Regions from separate parts of the Homo sapiens genome. Here region 2 is linked to region 1. A link means that fine-mapping ties the variant in region 1 to the expression of a gene that starts in the linked region. Tissue or cell type: monocytes after LPS. Region 1 holds a variant in brackets; the other region holds the start of a gene. All regions are shown on one strand. Distances are from middle to middle.

Region 1 (8,104 bases):
GCAGCCTTCACCTCCGGGGGTTCTTGCGAGAGTTCGATGAGAAAGTAGATTTAAGACTCTTTGCAGCAGTGTGGTGCAGACAGCAGTCGACATATGCACAGAAACACACACACATTCACACCCACACACTCACATATCAGGCCAGGTTATTAGAGCATCGCTGCAATGGTGGGTCTTCTGACGAATAATTTTATCAAGTCCCTCTCTTTCTCATTAGCCTGAGATAGGTCTCTCTTACCAACCTTTCGGGTATGGGGTGCAACACCCCAGCTTGGTTTTCGGAGTCCTCTGCCTTATACCACCACCTGACCTGTTTAAGAACATTTCCTGCTCCTCCCCAGCCCCTGCTGGACTCCTTGGCCAGGTTGATTTTCCTCTCCCAAGAAATACTATATAGCAACTCCTTTGACTTCCCTAGCCCCACCATGAGTCATTCCTCCAGTGACTTGGTGTCCTCTTGACCAGACATGAGCTCCCAAACCAGAACTTCACGCTCTACCTTTGGGATTCAGCCCCTAGGATAAGGGAGACTAAAGCCTACCATGTGCCACGCTGGACTCTGGACACTCGAATTCTTTACTTCATGGAACCTTCACATTCTTTACAAATGGAATGTCAATTTCACAGGGAAGAAAATTGAGGCTCAGAGAGGTGGAGAGGTAATAAGTTCAAGATCTTTCAACTAGTAATTATTTCTCAAGCTCCTACTGGAACCTGGCCCTGTGCAAAGTTCTGAGGACACAATGTGGACAAAAAATGGACCACACCCATATGAGCTCATATATGAGGGAACCAGAGCCACTGGCAATCCCAGTGCAGGGATGAGCGCTGCTGAGAAGGGCGTGACAAACATGACGTACAAGTGCAGAATTAACACACTAATGAGTGAGCCAGCAGTGGGGCAAGAGCTGGTTCCAAGAGTAAATGGGCACTTAGAGGCTTTGAAAAAGGAAGGTGAGAATAACATTTTCAAGTTAGAGATCAATCCGGTTAATGTCCCACAAGGCAATAAGGCCATATCTTTGGAGATATTTTTTTTCTGCCAGACAGAAGCCATTTGCACCCACCAGACAAAAGTCTACAAATTAGCCCCAATCTGGGCCTTAATCAAATAGGAAAGACAAACTCAGGTATATTCTTCTACAGAACTAACTAATCCTTCAGTGGGGCTTTTAAACCGTGCCCCAGTATGGCAACGAGATGAAGCACTGCCTTCTTTTGCCTTATTTCCAAATTTGAGATACTTTGTCTTATTAAAGGAAAGTATACTGGCTTCATTCAGCCTGCACAGGGCAGAAAAAGACTTCTTGAAGAGGAAATCCCTGAACTGAGATCTAAAAAATAAGTAACAAGAAGCCAGGTAAGTGCAAAAGAGCCAGTGCAAAGGAGTTCCAAGGAGCCAGTGCCTGGCAGAGGCCAGCCGTCCCTGTGTGCACTGGCCCCTACTGAGCTCTGCAGCCCGATTCACACCACTCTCTCCATCACTCCCTGCACTGGCAACACCAGCCTCCTGCCAGTTTCTAAAATGAACCACAGGACCCCGGCATGAGCTACTCCCTCTGCCTGCAACACTCCCTGGATCTTTCCTGCTTGTCCTCCAATCCAGAGGCTGGGCTAAGTTCCCTTGTCAAACACTTCCATAGTAACCATGTCCAGCCCTTCTTTGTAGCCCTCATCTCAATTTGTAATTATACATTGGCACTGTGATTACATGATTACCATCCTCTCCTCTACTGCCCCAGTTGCTGCCTCAGGGCAAGGAGGGTGTTGATTCACTCATCAGTGTAACTCCTATGCTAAGCCCATAGGAGGCACCCAGCAAATATTAGAGGGATGGGAGGATGGACGGAGTGATGAGAAGGAGGATGAGAGGATAGATGGATGGAAGAAGGGAGGCTGAATGGATGGCTGGATTGATGCAGGAGAGCACGGATGGGTGGATGGGTGGGAAGGAAGAAAGGAAGGGGGAGAGGGAGGGAAGAGAGCAAAGGGGGAGAAGGAAGAGCATAAAAGTCGGAGTCTGCTTGGCATTTTAGGAGAACTGAGAGTCCCTGGCTGGCAGGTTTGGAACTAGAAGCAAACCTCAGTACATCTGACTTTTCCCACTGAGTTTCTCTGCCTTTCATCATGATCCTGGGTTCAGGGCAATCACTTTTTTAAAAAAATGACGCATGATCCCCAACAGGCAAGGAGCCAATGACCTTTGTCTGAGCCTTTGGTTCCTCTTCTAGAGAAACTGGGGCTATACTTAGAAAACAGGATAAAAGATTGCAAAAATTTGTCTACTCTCAAATTGCACAACCCTAGCGTGGCTGGTCAATGGCTCAACTTTGGGAGCTGGCGGGGCTCAGCCTCTCAACAGACTTGTCCTCCTGGCTCTGCTTCAATGACAACAGGCCAAGCCCTCATGGTAGAAGGTGCCGTTCCCACCAACCTGGGCCTTCTGCCCCCGCAGGCCCTCTCTGGGCAAGGTCAGCTGGTGCGGCAGCCGGTCGCATGGATCTGGGCCACAGACCTGTCTCCAGAATGAGGCCGGGTGAGAGTTTAATGGCAAGAAGGCTGCAGCCTGACTAAGGCTGTCGGCTTGATTCTGCCATGGCTCCCCCCCATGCCAGTAAATGGACCCTGTGCACATGCAGATTAATGCATTATCGCTAATGTTTTGTGCCAGATGCAAAGGCACTCGGGCAGCCCGGCCGAGAGCTGCCATTACCACAGGACCTTTTGCTGGAAAATTTTTCTTGGGGCAATTAAATCTTCAGCTGTCTCCTCCAAGGGAGTGCCAGCTTGCATTTTAATTATCCTCAAAAGAGGGAAGTAGGGGAAAGGACACAAGGCAAAGAATGAAAAAATAACAACCTGCTTTATAAACACAGTGGTTTCTCCCCCATCAACTCCACAGTGCCCTTGACCTTTAGATTCCTGCCTCCCGATACCCTTGGAAGGACCCCTTTAACGGGAAGAAGGGAGAGGAGGTAGGAGAGAGCGTTTCTTGAGTGTGGAATAAGTGTTAGTGCAATGCATTATGCCTGGTTAATTTTTTTTAAATTTTTTTTGTAGAGACAGGGTTTCCCTATGTGGCCCAGGCTGGTCTCAAACTCCTGGGCTCAAGTGATCTTCCTGCCTCAGCCTGCAAGTAGCTGGAACTACAGGTGCATGCCAACCAGCCCAGCTAATTTTTTAAAAAAATTTTTGTAGAGACTGGGTCTCCCTACGTTGCCCAGGCTGGTCTCAAATTCCTGGGCTCAAGTGATCCTCCTGCTTCAGTCTCCCAAAGTGCTGGGATTAGAGGCGTGAACCACCATTCCCAGACTCATGGAAAGTTCGAGAACCGGCAAAACTCATCAGTCAGGTGCTAGGGCGAGGGAAGCACTTGACTAAAAGGGACAAAGGGAACTTTCGGGGACCTGGAAATGCTTATCTTGATTGAGGTGGTGCTTACATGGGTGTACATATCAGTCAAAACTCATCAAACTGTATACTTTAAAATGAGTGCATTTTATTGTTTGTAAGTTAATACTTTAATAAAGTTGATTTTAAAATAATAATAAAATAATACGAGTTAATATTTATCTAGACCTTACTATGTGCCGTCCTAGTCGCGCTTCGTATGTGTTAAGCCCTTTATCCCTCACTCCAATCTGTGACATAGGCACTCAGTACCCCGTTGCCCAAATGAGGAAATTGAAACACAGAGAAGTTTGGCAACTTTCTAAAGTGACGCAGCTAGTAAGAGGCAGGGCCTGGGTTCAAATGGAGGCAGATTTTAAGCCTATAGCTGAACAGCGAAGTCCAAGATTACCCA[A/G]CTGGTTATTACTAGAGGCAGGATTAAACCCCGGTGCCTTTCCAACGTGATGAAACCGGTGGAAGAGGAAAACGCATTCATTCACTAGGGAAACATTTACTCATCCTCCGCTGCAGGTCGAACTGTAGACACAGAGAGCAACAGACAAATCCCAGGCCCTCGTCGGGGAAGAAAGGGATCATGAAATAAACAGAAAAATAAATGCGAAATGCGGCCAGCGATGAAAGCTCAGAAGGCGAGCTTACCCCGGACCCAAACGCGCAATACTAACCGGGAGTGTAAGGAGGCCACGCCCTCCTCGCGTATTTGTGCCCAAATGAGCTGCCTCCCCAGCGTGCACCAAATTCCTGAGCCACCTGCTCCGAGCTCGATTTCCCTTTCAAGCTGTGTGTTCTGCGGGGGCAGGGAGAGCTGCAAGGGCTCATCTTTCAGGACGTGCTGCAAAGGCCCTTTGAAGTCATCCGCCCTGCTCTTGGCACCTTGCGCCTGGAGCTGAGCTCTTCCAAAAATGACCCCTGCGCATTCCGTGGTGCGGCCGCCCAGCCCAGGCAGTCGCGGTCCAGAGCAGGGGAAGCTGCAGCGCGGCCGACAGCTGGGAGAGCCGAGGCCCTGAGGGAGGACCCTGCCTCAAGCCAAGCAACCAGGCCCTGCGGCCCTCTCCCCACCCCTGTGCGGCCCTGGCGCAGGGAACCGGGACGGGGCTTTCAGGCCTTGAAGGGCAGACTTACTCCACCAAACATTCCCATCGTCGGCTGATGGAGGGCCTCGAGCTGGGCGCTGTGGGTACGTTATCCTATTTACTTCTCTCGGTAGCCCTGCACCATCGCCTCTGGTTCCCAGGTAAGCACAGAGAAGCAGATGACTTGCCCAAGATCACACAGTACTGCAGGAATAGAATTGGCGTCTGGACCTCTCCCCTAATACCCCACGGCCTCCAGAATCTCACCTCAGCCCCTGTCCATCCCGAAATAAACACTCTACACCATTTAGTGAATGTTCTTTCAGAGGTCAGACCCTATACATTCATTTCCTGGCTCCCCCATTTCCTGACTGCGTGACCTTAAGCAAGTTTCTTAACCTCTCTGTGTCAGCGTCCTCCTCTGTAGAATGGTGCCAAAAACTGTACCTATCCCAGAAGGTTACTGTGAGGACCAAATGAGACAAGACAATAAATGTAAAAGTGGTTAAAACTGTGCCCAGATGATAGTGAGCCCTCAAAAACTAGTCACTCTTCTAATTCCATAGACTTGATTAATTTCTGGTTTTTCATAAGTGGATTTACATGTATACATTTAAGGCACCTTTCCAAGTAAGACATACAGGTCTACCTCATTCTTTCAAGCAGCTTCATAACATTCTTGTATTCATTCATTCATTCATTCATTCATTCACCAAACATGTGTAGAGCGGGCAGCTCCTGTACACCAGGCAAGGGCATACAACACACTCAGTCCTTGCTCTGAGTTCTCATGGGAGGGATAATTGACAAATGCATGAATAAATAGTTGAGAGCATTTCACCTTATACTGAGTGCTATGAAGAAAATAAGATGGGGCCAGGCTCTGTGGCTCATGCCTGAAATCCTAGGACTTTGGGAGGCCGAGGCGGGCAGATCATTTGAGGCCAGGCATTCAAGACCAGCCTAGGGTTTTAGTAGAGAAAATCCATCTGTACTAAAAATACAAAAAAACAAAACAAAACAAAAATGCTCTATGTGGTGGTGCATGCCTGTAATCCCATCTATTCTGGAGGCTGAGGCACCAGGATTATTTAAATCTGGGAGGCAGAGTTTGCAGTGAGCCGAGATCTCACCACCACACTCCAGCCTGGGTGACAGAGTGAGACTCTGTCTCAAAAAACAAAAAAAAAAAAAGAAAAAAGAAAAAAGTAAAAAGAAAAGATGGACAAAGTGTTAGAGAGACGCTGGTTGGGAGAGGGAAAACAATTTACAGACAGTGCGTGAAGTCCCCAGGGATATGGCATTTTACTGCCACCGGAAGGAAGAGAAGGAAGGAGAATGGAGCAGTCCAGGCAGAGGAAGCAGCCAGGGCAAAGGCTGGGAGGCTGCACTAAGCTCAAGTGTGATTCAACTGGAGGTAAAGAATGAGCATTTTTGAAACCAGGTTGGAGAGTCAGGCCAGGGCCCAGTGAGACAGCGCCTGTGGATTTTAGCCTGAGAGACATGTGAAGTCCCTGAACCCGGGGGTCCTGCAGCTGTGTAGGAACAGATTGGAGAGGCACCAATGGAGGAACCAGGAAGTTTGTCAGGCTACAGGATTCAGAGGCACGGGCAAGAGGCGATGGTGGCAGGGACTAGGGATGCAGCCTCCAGCCTGGAACATGCCTCAGTGGCAGAGCCCACGGGACCAGCTGATGGGGAAGACAGAGTTGAAGGAAAAAAAGAAACAAGTTGCCACTGACAGATGTCAACATAATAATTTAATTAATGAATTCCCTATTGATGGAGAGCTGGACTGTTTCTATTTTTTCCCTACTTGCAAACAATTTTGTCTTAAACATTATTGCATAGATAGCCCCAGATATGAGATGCTTGGATCAAAGGGGTGAACTTTTTTTTTTTTTAATCATATCCAGATGGCCACATTGCCTCCATTCCACTTGTGTCCAACATGCAGGAGTTCCAGTTTCTACCCTGGAACTTTCTCCTCCTGCTGTGCTCCTGGGAACACTCTGCCCAACCCCTCCACCTCTGGCACAGACCCGGTCTCCAATGCATTTGTATTTCTTGCTGCAATCTGGAATTATAAGTTGTTAAGAAGAAAACCTCAGAACCAGGCTAAGTGGCTAAAAAGACTGCCCAGGGGCCTCTTTTTCCAGCAGGAGGCAGAGAGAGGCTTCCAACACCCTGAAGAGGGCCAGTTTACCCCTATTCTTCCAAATACAAGGAATTGACTTTTATTTTTTTTTCCCTCTTCAGGCCTGAAAACAAGCCAGAGCATTGAATGGCCATGAAAACAAGCAGTGAAAACAGGCCCTGAGGTTACAGGAAACCCTTCTCCCCACCACTCTCTGAGCAGCGGGAAGGAAGGGAGCCACTGTCCTCTGGGTCCTCTGCCCTTCAGCCCTCCTGGAGGCCCACTGGCCTTCCCCATCTCACATGTGATCAATGCCCCCTGGTTGTGGCCACCACCTGCTGCCTGACCCCCATTCCATGCCAGCTTTTGCTACCAGAGTTTCCTTTTCATAAGTGGCCTTTTTAAAGGAAGTATTTTCTTTTAATCAGCAGTCACTGCATCTGTAACAGTGCTGAAGCAGAATTTTGTTATTTTCCCATTACTTAGCGCTTCTCTGTTCCATTTATTTGGGGGAAGAATCGCTAAGATTTCAGAGATTCGTAGCTCTCTTGTACGCGGTATCTGATTTTCACTTTGGCATTTGGAGATGCTTTTGAAGGTGGTTTATGTTATCTTTCCAAGACTTACCTGGTGAGTTACTTAATCAAGAGAGGATTTTGAAACATACTGCCTCTTAATATCTTGTCTTTTGTTTTTGTTTTGTTTTTTTGAGACAGAGTCTCACTCTGTCGCCCAGGCTGGAGTCCAGTGGCATGATCTTGGCTCACAGCAACCTCTGCCTCCCCAGATCAAGCAATTCTCCCACCTCAGCCTCCTAAGTAGCTGGGATCACAGGCACACACCAGCACACCTGGCTAATCTTTGTATTTTTAGTAGAGACAGGGTTTCGCCATGTTGGCCAGGCTGGTCTCGAACTCCTGACCTCAGGTGATCCACCCACCTTGGTGTCCCAAAGTGCTGGGATTACAGGCGTGAGTCACCGTACCCAGCCTATCTTGTCTTTTAAAACAAGTGACTTTTTTTTTACAGCAAAATAAATGGATAGCAACTCTTTGACACTGCTAGTAACTATTATTAATTGACTGCTTAGGAAATGTCAGCTGCCAGGCTGGGCTCATTCCCATTGGATCTTCTCCGCAGCTCTCTAAGGGAGGTGTGAGTTTTTGTATACATTTAATGTGTGAGGACACCAAGGTATGGAGAAGTTGACTACTATCAGTAACTTACCCAAAGTTACAGACCAGGGCAGAAATGAGGTGCAGATTCCATACTCCCCAGGGCCCTTCCTTTGTAACCATGGTTACAAAGCCTCTCAGAGGGAAGGCGGCGGATTCTCCTGCAGGTCACTGTGGCAGTGACATGGGCAGGGGTGGCGGACAGACACATGTTCCCGTTTGTTCTTACTCTTGTCCGTGGCACCTCTTCCTTCCGACTGCTGGTCCAGCCGATCCATGGGCCTTGCAAGTCCACACTAGAGGCAGAA
Region 2 (8,104 bases), 160 kb after region 1:
CAGGTACTCTCTTGTGCCTGGCCTCTTTCACTCAGCATAATTATTTTGATTCATACATGCTGTTGTATCAATACTTTATTCCTCCCCCCATCAACACACCCTCAGCAACATTTCATTGTATGGGAATACCACAATTTGTTTATCCATTCATTTATTGCTGAACACTGCAGCATTTTCCAGTTTGGAATTCTTATGGGAAAAGCCACTGTGAATTCCTATACAAGTTGCTTTATTAACAGAAGTTTTCATTTACCTGAGACCCATGGAATTGCTGGGCCACAGGGTAGACATATATTTAACTTTATAAGAAACTGCCAAACTGGTTTTTTTTTTTTTTCCCAAAGTGGTTGTACCATTTTAAAATCTTACCACATGGCTGGTTTCACAAGCTTGTATCCATCTCATGGCTTTTGTACTTGTTCTTCTTTCTTCTTGGAATGACTTCCCATTCGGTTTCAGAGCTGGGTTCTTGACATTCAGGTTTCAATTCAAATGTCAAATGCCAAAGAGGCTATTATGGACTGAATTGTGTCCCTCCTCACTCCAAATTCATGTTGAAGTTATAATTCCCAGTACCTTAGAATGTGCCTATATTTGAAGATAAGGTCTTTAAAGAGGTAATTAAGATAAAATAAGGCTGTCGGAATGAAGGACAAAAACCATACTATCATTTCAATTGATGCTGAAAAAGCATTTGATAAAATTCAACATGGTTTCATGATAAAAACCCTAAAAAAAACTGGGAATAGAAGGAAAATACCCCCACATAATAAAAGCCATATATGACAAACCCACAGCTAGTACCATACTGAATGGGGAAAAACTGAAAGCCTTTAAGATCTGGAATACAACAAGGATGCCCACTTTCACCACTGTTATTCAACACAGTACTAGAAGTACTAGAAGTACTAGCTAGAGCAATCAGGCAAGAGAAAGAAATAAAGGGCATCCAAATAGGAAAGGAAAAAGTTAAATTATCCTTGTTTGCATATTATATCTTATATTTGGAAAAACCTAAAGACTCCACCAAAAAACTGTTAGAACTGATAAACAAATTCCGTACAGTTGCAGGATACAAAATCAACATACAAAAATCAGTAGCATTTCTATATGTTAACAGTGAACAATCTGAAAAAGAAATTTAAAAAGTAATCCCATTTACAATAGCCATAAATAAAAATACCTAGGAATTAATTTAAAGAAATGAAAGATCTCTATAATGAAAACTATAAAACACTGATTAAAGAAATTGAAGAGGACACACAAAAAATGGAAAGATATTTCATGTTCATGGATAGGAAGAATCAACATTGGTTAAAATGTCCATACTACCCAAAGCAATCTAAAGAGTCAATGCAATCCCTATCAAAATACCAATGACATTCTTCACAGAAATAGAAAAAAGGTTATGGTTAAAAAGACCTTCTGATCACCATTTTGCAACTGTAATAATTGTTTCAAGCAAGAATCACCATGAATTCTGAAACCAGTGGGTAAGAGTCTAAAGAAGAGGATATTTAAATAGTCTCAAAATATCTTCCCACAGAATACTTAATAGTTACAGAAGGAAAAATCGTAACTTTATGGTAGAGTGTAACTACTCCTACACCACCTCAACCAAATGATGGAAGTTAACACCACGAATACTGGGACAAACACAATGCCATGTGCCTCCTGATGAAAGGCCCTGAGGAGGCAACTTTTTTCAGCAGTAGTCCTGCCAAAAAATGCATACCCTCTCAGAATAGCAAGGGATGGGTTGGTGGGGGGTGGGGGAGGAGAGAAAAATGGATACTCTGAAACTAATAAGAAAACACAGATGAATAAAAATTTAGGGACATTCTACAATATAACTCGCCAGTATTCTTCAAAAATGTCAAGGTCATGAAAGACAAAGAAAGGCTGGATAACTAACTGCCCTTCCAGATTAAAAGAAACTAAAGAGGCATGACAACTCAGTGCAACGTCTGATCCTGAATTGGATCCTGGGGAATAGCTATAAAGGACATTATTGGGACCATTAGCAAAATTTAAATATGGATGGAGTGTATTAAATAAAACAATTGTATCATTGTTAAAATTCCTGATTTTTGACCACTGTACTGAGATTATGCCAGATAATGTCTTTTTTTTAAGGAAACACACACATATATTTAGGATAAAGGAGTTTGATGTTGGAAACTCTAAAATGATGTAGTAAAAAAGAATATATACATTATATATGTGTGTGTGTGAATATCTATATACCGTATACTGATTTCCTTTCTTTTGGGGTATATACCATATAGATATCCACACACAATATGTATTTGTGTGTATATATACACATACACGAGAGGATATGGATATGCAGCAAAATATAACAATTTGTTATTCTAGTGGAAAAGTATATGATCTTTACGATTCTTGAAATTTATGTGTAAATTTGAAATTTAATCACAAAAAAGTTAAGAGGTTTTCAGCGACCAAATACATTATAAGAAATGGCCTGTATCCAGTGAGCACTCTTTAGCTCATTCTTTTTCTCCATCACACTTACCACTGGCAAAAATTATCCTGTGCATTTATTTAATAATACTTAACATTGTGTGCAAGGCTGTCCTAAGTGCTTTACCTGTATAACCTCTGTGGATCTTCTTACAGGTAAGGAACAAATACACAAGAAGGTTGACTAACTTGCCCAAGGCCACCCATGTGGTTTGTCTCCTGCAGTGGCACAGAACCTCAACCAAGGCAGAAACTGCCTTGTCTATTGCTCTTTCCCCAGCGACTTGGAATGGTGCCTAGCACATTACGGGTGTTCAATAAACATCTGTAGATTCAGTTAACAAACACTGGGCACCCACTAGGCCTACACTGGAATACAAAATACAGAACAAAATATTCAAAAATCTGTGCCTAAATGGGAGCTTTGGGTACTAACAGCCCCACACCCAATTAGCCTCCATCTAGGTATTTCATTTGGGTCTATCATTCCTGGGAATTAAAGCCCATTCTATCCATTTTGCAGAGGATCATTAGATAAACGGATGCTCAGGGTGGGTCAATGATTTGCACAAGATCACTGGGCTGGTAGAAGGGAAGGTCGGGATTCCAACCCAGTCCCTGAGGTTCCCAGGACAGAGCTATGAATCAAACGACCAAGACAATCACCCAGTCAGTATTTATTAGGCGCCTACTGCGGACGGTTGGTCTTCACGCAGATCAGGCGAGAAGGGATAGTGATGCGCGGGCCGCTGCGGAGACCCGGAGCCCGCCGCGGATCACGGGAATTTCGCGCCTATTTTTTGTTGGCTGGGTGTTCTCGCCAGTGATTGGGTCCCGGCAAGGCGTGCCGGTGCGCTCGGCTGCGGCTGCTCCGTCGACCTTTGCAGGACCGGGCGGTGCAGGGCTCACTCGGCTGGCGTCCCGGGGGATGGGCCACCAGGAGTCTCCGCTGGCCCGGGCGCCGGCGGGAGGTGCAGCTTATGTAAAGAGGTTATGTAAAGGGCTCAGCTGGCGCGAACACGTGGAAAGCCACGGGAGCCTAGGAGCCCAGGCTTCCCCAGCGAGCGCCGCGGCAGCAGAAGGATCCGCTACACGCCGGGCTCGGGCCGCCACCTCCCGCGCTGCTCGGTCCCGGAGGCAGCCCGGGCCCGGAGCGGACCATCCCCAGGCAGGGGCTCCAGGGGGGAAACGGGCCGCCCGGAAGTGGAGGTGCGCGGGCCAGGTAAGGGCGCCGTTGGAGGACTGAAGGCCAGCGCCGAGGCTGGAGTTACTGCCACTGCCTCCGCGCTTGGGAAGGGAAATCGGGTCCTCGGCCAGTCGCACTCCGAGAAGCCGAACTTTTCAGCCAATCCCTTCTACCCGTCGCCCTCGGGGACTTGGGTCGGTCCGCTGGGCTCCGCTAGGGCTTAATTCAATGGACTGTTTACACCCGGGCGAACACAAGGCGGGGCGCGGGGAGGAGCGTCACAGAGGGGGCCAAGCAAAGAAAAATATTTCCGCCGGCCAAATCGCGTCTCTAAGCGGTTTTCAGAAGGCGTGAAGCTTGCTGGCTCTTCTTTTTCCTATCGCTACATGACAAGCTAACAGAGAGAGCGGAGAGTTTGTGCTTTTCTTTCCGGTTCCCCCTCTGAGCTGCTGCCCAGTGGTTCGGTCTTTCCCGCTTTCCCCTCCCCTCCCCCGTTCAATCAGCGGCGGTGGCTTCCGTCTTAAAGGGGCCGCGGCGGCCGGGGGAGGAGGAGGTGGGACGCCCCGCGGCCTACGCTCCTGGCCTCCCCGCCTTGGCCTGGCCGTTTAACCGATTCTTTCGCCCGCAGGTCACAATCCAAGGTCCGGCTCCTCCGCGTCCCAGGGCCGGACGGAGGGATGAGGCAGGGGGGGCCCGGGCAGCGCCGTTGCTGCTCCCCCCGCCGCCCGCAGCCATGGAAACGGGGAAGGACGGCGCCCGCAGAGGTACACAAAGCCCGGAGCGGAAAAGGCGAAGCCCAGTGCCGCGGGCGCCCAGCACGAAGCTGAGGCCGGCGGCGGCGGCCCGGGCCATGGATCCGGTGGCGGCCGAGGCCCCGGGCGAGGCCTTCCTGGCGCGGCGACGGCCTGAGGGCGGTGGCGGGTCCGCGCGGCCGCGTTACAGCCTGTTGGCGGAGATCGGGCGCGGCAGCTACGGCGTGGTTTATGAGGCAGTGGCCGGGCGCAGCGGGGCCCGGGTGGCGGTCAAGAAGATCCGCTGCGACGCCCCCGAGAACGTGGAGCTGGCGCTGGCTGAATTCTGGGCCCTCACCAGCCTCAAGCGGCGCCACCAGAACGTCGTGCAGTTTGAGGAGTGCGTCCTGCAGCGCAATGGGTTAGCCCAGCGCATGAGTCACGGCAACAAGAGCTCGCAGCTTTACCTGCGCCTGGTGGAGACCTCGCTGAAAGGTAGGAGCACCGCGGGCCTTTCCACCCACGCAGGGCCTGGACCCCCTGCTCTCCGGACGGCTTGGCCCACACTGTTCCTGGCCTTCCTAGGCCTCAGACCTGGTCCCTGTCACCCTGTGCCCTGACACACCCTCCTTTCCTGGGCCCAGGCATTCGGCCCTCTCTTCTCAGGTCCTAAGATCAGTCCCTGGGCCTAAAGTTGGCTGGTGTTTCCATAACAAGAGCTCGTTTAAGTGCTAACCATTAACTTAATAAGTGCTCAAGAATTGCGAGCTATGGTTATTAAACGTCTTCTATTTTTAAGATCGGTTGGGGGAGTGGAGGAGGGGTCGGGTTCAGTTAGTAGCAGAACTGCGGAGCCTCCTCACCCCCGAGGGCCTCTCTCTTTCCCTCCCAAAACAAACAAAAAGAAAAAACTTGACTGGACCCACCCACACCCTCTCCCTGTCTGGTTCCAAGTTTCCTGACACCCTCCAGCTCCAACCCCCAAACTCCTGTGGCTTCCTCGTCTGCCTTTTCCTCTGAGGCCCCCGGCCCTTCATCCCAGGCAGCCGAGCAAACTGACTGTCTTCTGGCTTGGTCCTCTGAGGGGTGCAGGCTGACAACCCTCACAGGTGGCCTGAGAGCTGTCACATAACAAAGCATCCGGCATCTTTTCCCTCCGTTTTACATTCTTAATCTTTTTCTTAACCTCAGAGGCTGGCTGGGAAGTGGTTTTACTTAAAAGGAAAATGGGGTACATTGAGGCAAGAGGTCTTGCAGTCCTGGAGGAACTAATTATCTTAGTTTCCGGGTTTTAACTGCAGTTAGGGAATGTATTCATCCTAACTACTCAGTACTCACAAGCCTTTTTCATACTACCAGTAGCTAAGTGTCTGCTTGGAGAGGAGAGAGGCGGTAGAAAGTTTGAGGAGACTTTCCGAGGCAGGAGGATCCAGGGGAAGAAAGTTTACTAATCCGAGTCCCAGCTGTGGTCTCAGTGCTGAAGTAATTTTTAGGTAATAACTTCAAAAGTAAATTCTATCCTTTTTCTATAAATAAACTAAGGCTTAGAAGTGAACAAATAACTTGATCAGGGTTAATCCGCTTGAAAGGGAAGTTAGACTGTACTCCTGGTTTCCTTACATTTCTCAGAGCTTAAGTGACGGGGATCCCAGATCTGTCTTGATTCGAGGCCTGGATCCTTTCGAAGGCGTAATGCTGTTCTCTGCACCCTGAGGATGAACTTTTTTAAGAGTGGGTAGGATTTGGGGTGAGTTTGGAGGGGGTGGTTTCCCAAAATCTTGTTACTTTTGCACAACTTAAAGATCCCCCAAGTCTTTCCCAAGAGAACGCTTTGTCCCATTGCAAGTCAGTTGTTTGACAGTGGAGTTGGAAACATGAATCAGTATCACCTAGAGTCCTTTAATTAGATGTCTAACTTTATAAAGTCCATCCGTGCCCCATCCATTCTGAGAAGCCTACCCTCTCCCCAGGGTGAGTGTTTTTGTTTTGAAAAGACTTCCAGCAGGGCACAATGGCTCACGACTGTAATCCCAGCACTTTGGGAGGCTGAGGTGGGAGGATGGCTTGAGCCCAGGAGTTTGGGAACAGCCTGGGCAACAAAGTGAGACCCTGGTCTCCACAAAAAATAGAAAAAAAAATAGCCGGACCTGATGGCACAGGCTTATAGTCCCAGCTACTTGAGAGGCAGAGGCAGGAGGATCAGTTGAGCCTGGGAGGTTGAGGCTACAGTGAGCCATTATCATGCAATGGCACTATAACCTGGGCGACTGAGCAAGACCCTGTCTCAAAAAAAAAAAAAAAAGACTCCCTAGGGGATTCGTTTATCTTACCTATATTCTAGGAGCGCATCACTTACTTTGAAGTCTTTCTATTCTCAGACTTCTCTTAGTCTTCTCCTTTACTGCCAATGAATGGTCTGGACTTCCTACTACAGGATTGCCTTGGGATGTAGGAATTTGCCTTGCCGAATGTTTATTCCTTGTGTCCTCAGTTCATTGACGCCAGTCTCGAACCTTCAACCTCAGCTTGAAGCTCTTGCTTACTCTCTCAACATATAAATACTATGTGGACTTTCCTCACCTGAAGAATTTGTCAAAATTCCAAAGTGACCCCATGGCAGCATAGCATAGTGGTTAGTACCATGGACTTTGGGGTTAGACCCTCTGGCTCATCCCAGGACTGACTGCACAAAACATGGAGCAAATTGTTTGAACCCTGTGAGGAGCATTCCTTTATTGTAAGATAGTGGGTATGTACCTATGACATTAGGTACATAGGGTCACTGTGCAAACTGTTAATGTCAGCAAGTGCTCCACATAGGGAGGAATTCACTGCCTTATATAAGTTCACACCATGTTCTGTACTCTTCTACCCTCACCCCCTTCAAGATTCACATTGTTCTTGCTCAAGTTTCCCAAACTTGTTTCATCATAGAACACACCTTGTTTTCTGTGTTGTCAGGCACACCAAGTTGACAGAAACACTGGTGTTTTCATCCTCCCTTTGTGAACTAAAACTGGGACCTAGAAAAATGAAATCTTTTGCTTTAGGCCGTACACTGGATTGGATTGGTCCCTTTCAGTTGTTTGGAGTCTTTAAAATATTTGAACCTCTACGGTGTTCAGGGCTCAGAGACAGAGCAGTGAAGAAAATATGTGTTGTTTCTGCTTATGAAAATGACATTCAAGCTGACTTGCAATGTGTGGATTTTTCAAGTAGTAAATAGGTAATCATTTTTGCTTCTTAAAATAGAGAACAGATACCAAAATTACTCCAGGTTAAACTTTGCTTATTCTGGATTCCAAAATTTAGGGGTCTTGATCTGTCCTGGGGCCTTGGGTTTACAGCATGCAAATACCACCCAGTAATGTTAAAGCTGGAAGGAATCGTAGAGATAACCTGGTTCAGCTCTCTCATTAAATAGAAAAGTCCTTTACAGTCACCCTTGGCCCTGCCTCCTAAAACTCAGAATGATTTTGAACAGGCCAAAAAGTGTGAATCTGCCTTGAAGTCTCAACTAAACCTAATGCTGAGTCCCTACTGTGGTATTTGAAGGGAAAGAAAAAAAGCAAAGCAAAACACACCACCCCTTGCCCCAATGGAACTTACATTTGAAAAGTTTGAGAACTGGAAGAAGATTTAAATGCTATTCAAGATCACTGGAGGAAATGACCAGTCAACTCATAAGCAAGGGCTTTGC

The links. PIP is the estimated chance that this variant, and not a neighbour inherited with it, causes the effect.
Region 2: it holds the start of STK35, and the variant in region 1 is fine-mapped to the expression of STK35 in monocytes after LPS (Quach 2016, PIP 0.91).

What each region holds. Positions count from the first base shown.
Region 1 is chr20:1,943,064-1,951,167 of GRCh38, forward strand. PDYN-AS1 (PDYN antisense RNA 1) reads left to right here and starts at 4,147. Exons shown (of 4, transcript NR_134520.1): 1 at 4,147-4,588. RefSeq lists enhancers at 2,466-3,012, 4,446-4,993 and silencers at 4,140-4,434, 7,780-8,074. The variant A/G (reference allele first, on the strand shown) is at 3,806.
Region 2 is chr20:2,098,467-2,106,570 of GRCh38, forward strand. STK35 (serine/threonine kinase 35) reads left to right here and starts at 3,361. Exons shown (of 4, transcript NM_080836.4): 1 at 3,361-3,709; 2 at 4,302-4,899. The coding sequence starts at 3,416. RefSeq lists silencers at 3,247-3,436, 3,537-3,826, 3,837-3,886, 4,177-4,706, 4,727-4,776 and an enhancer at 4,122-5,090.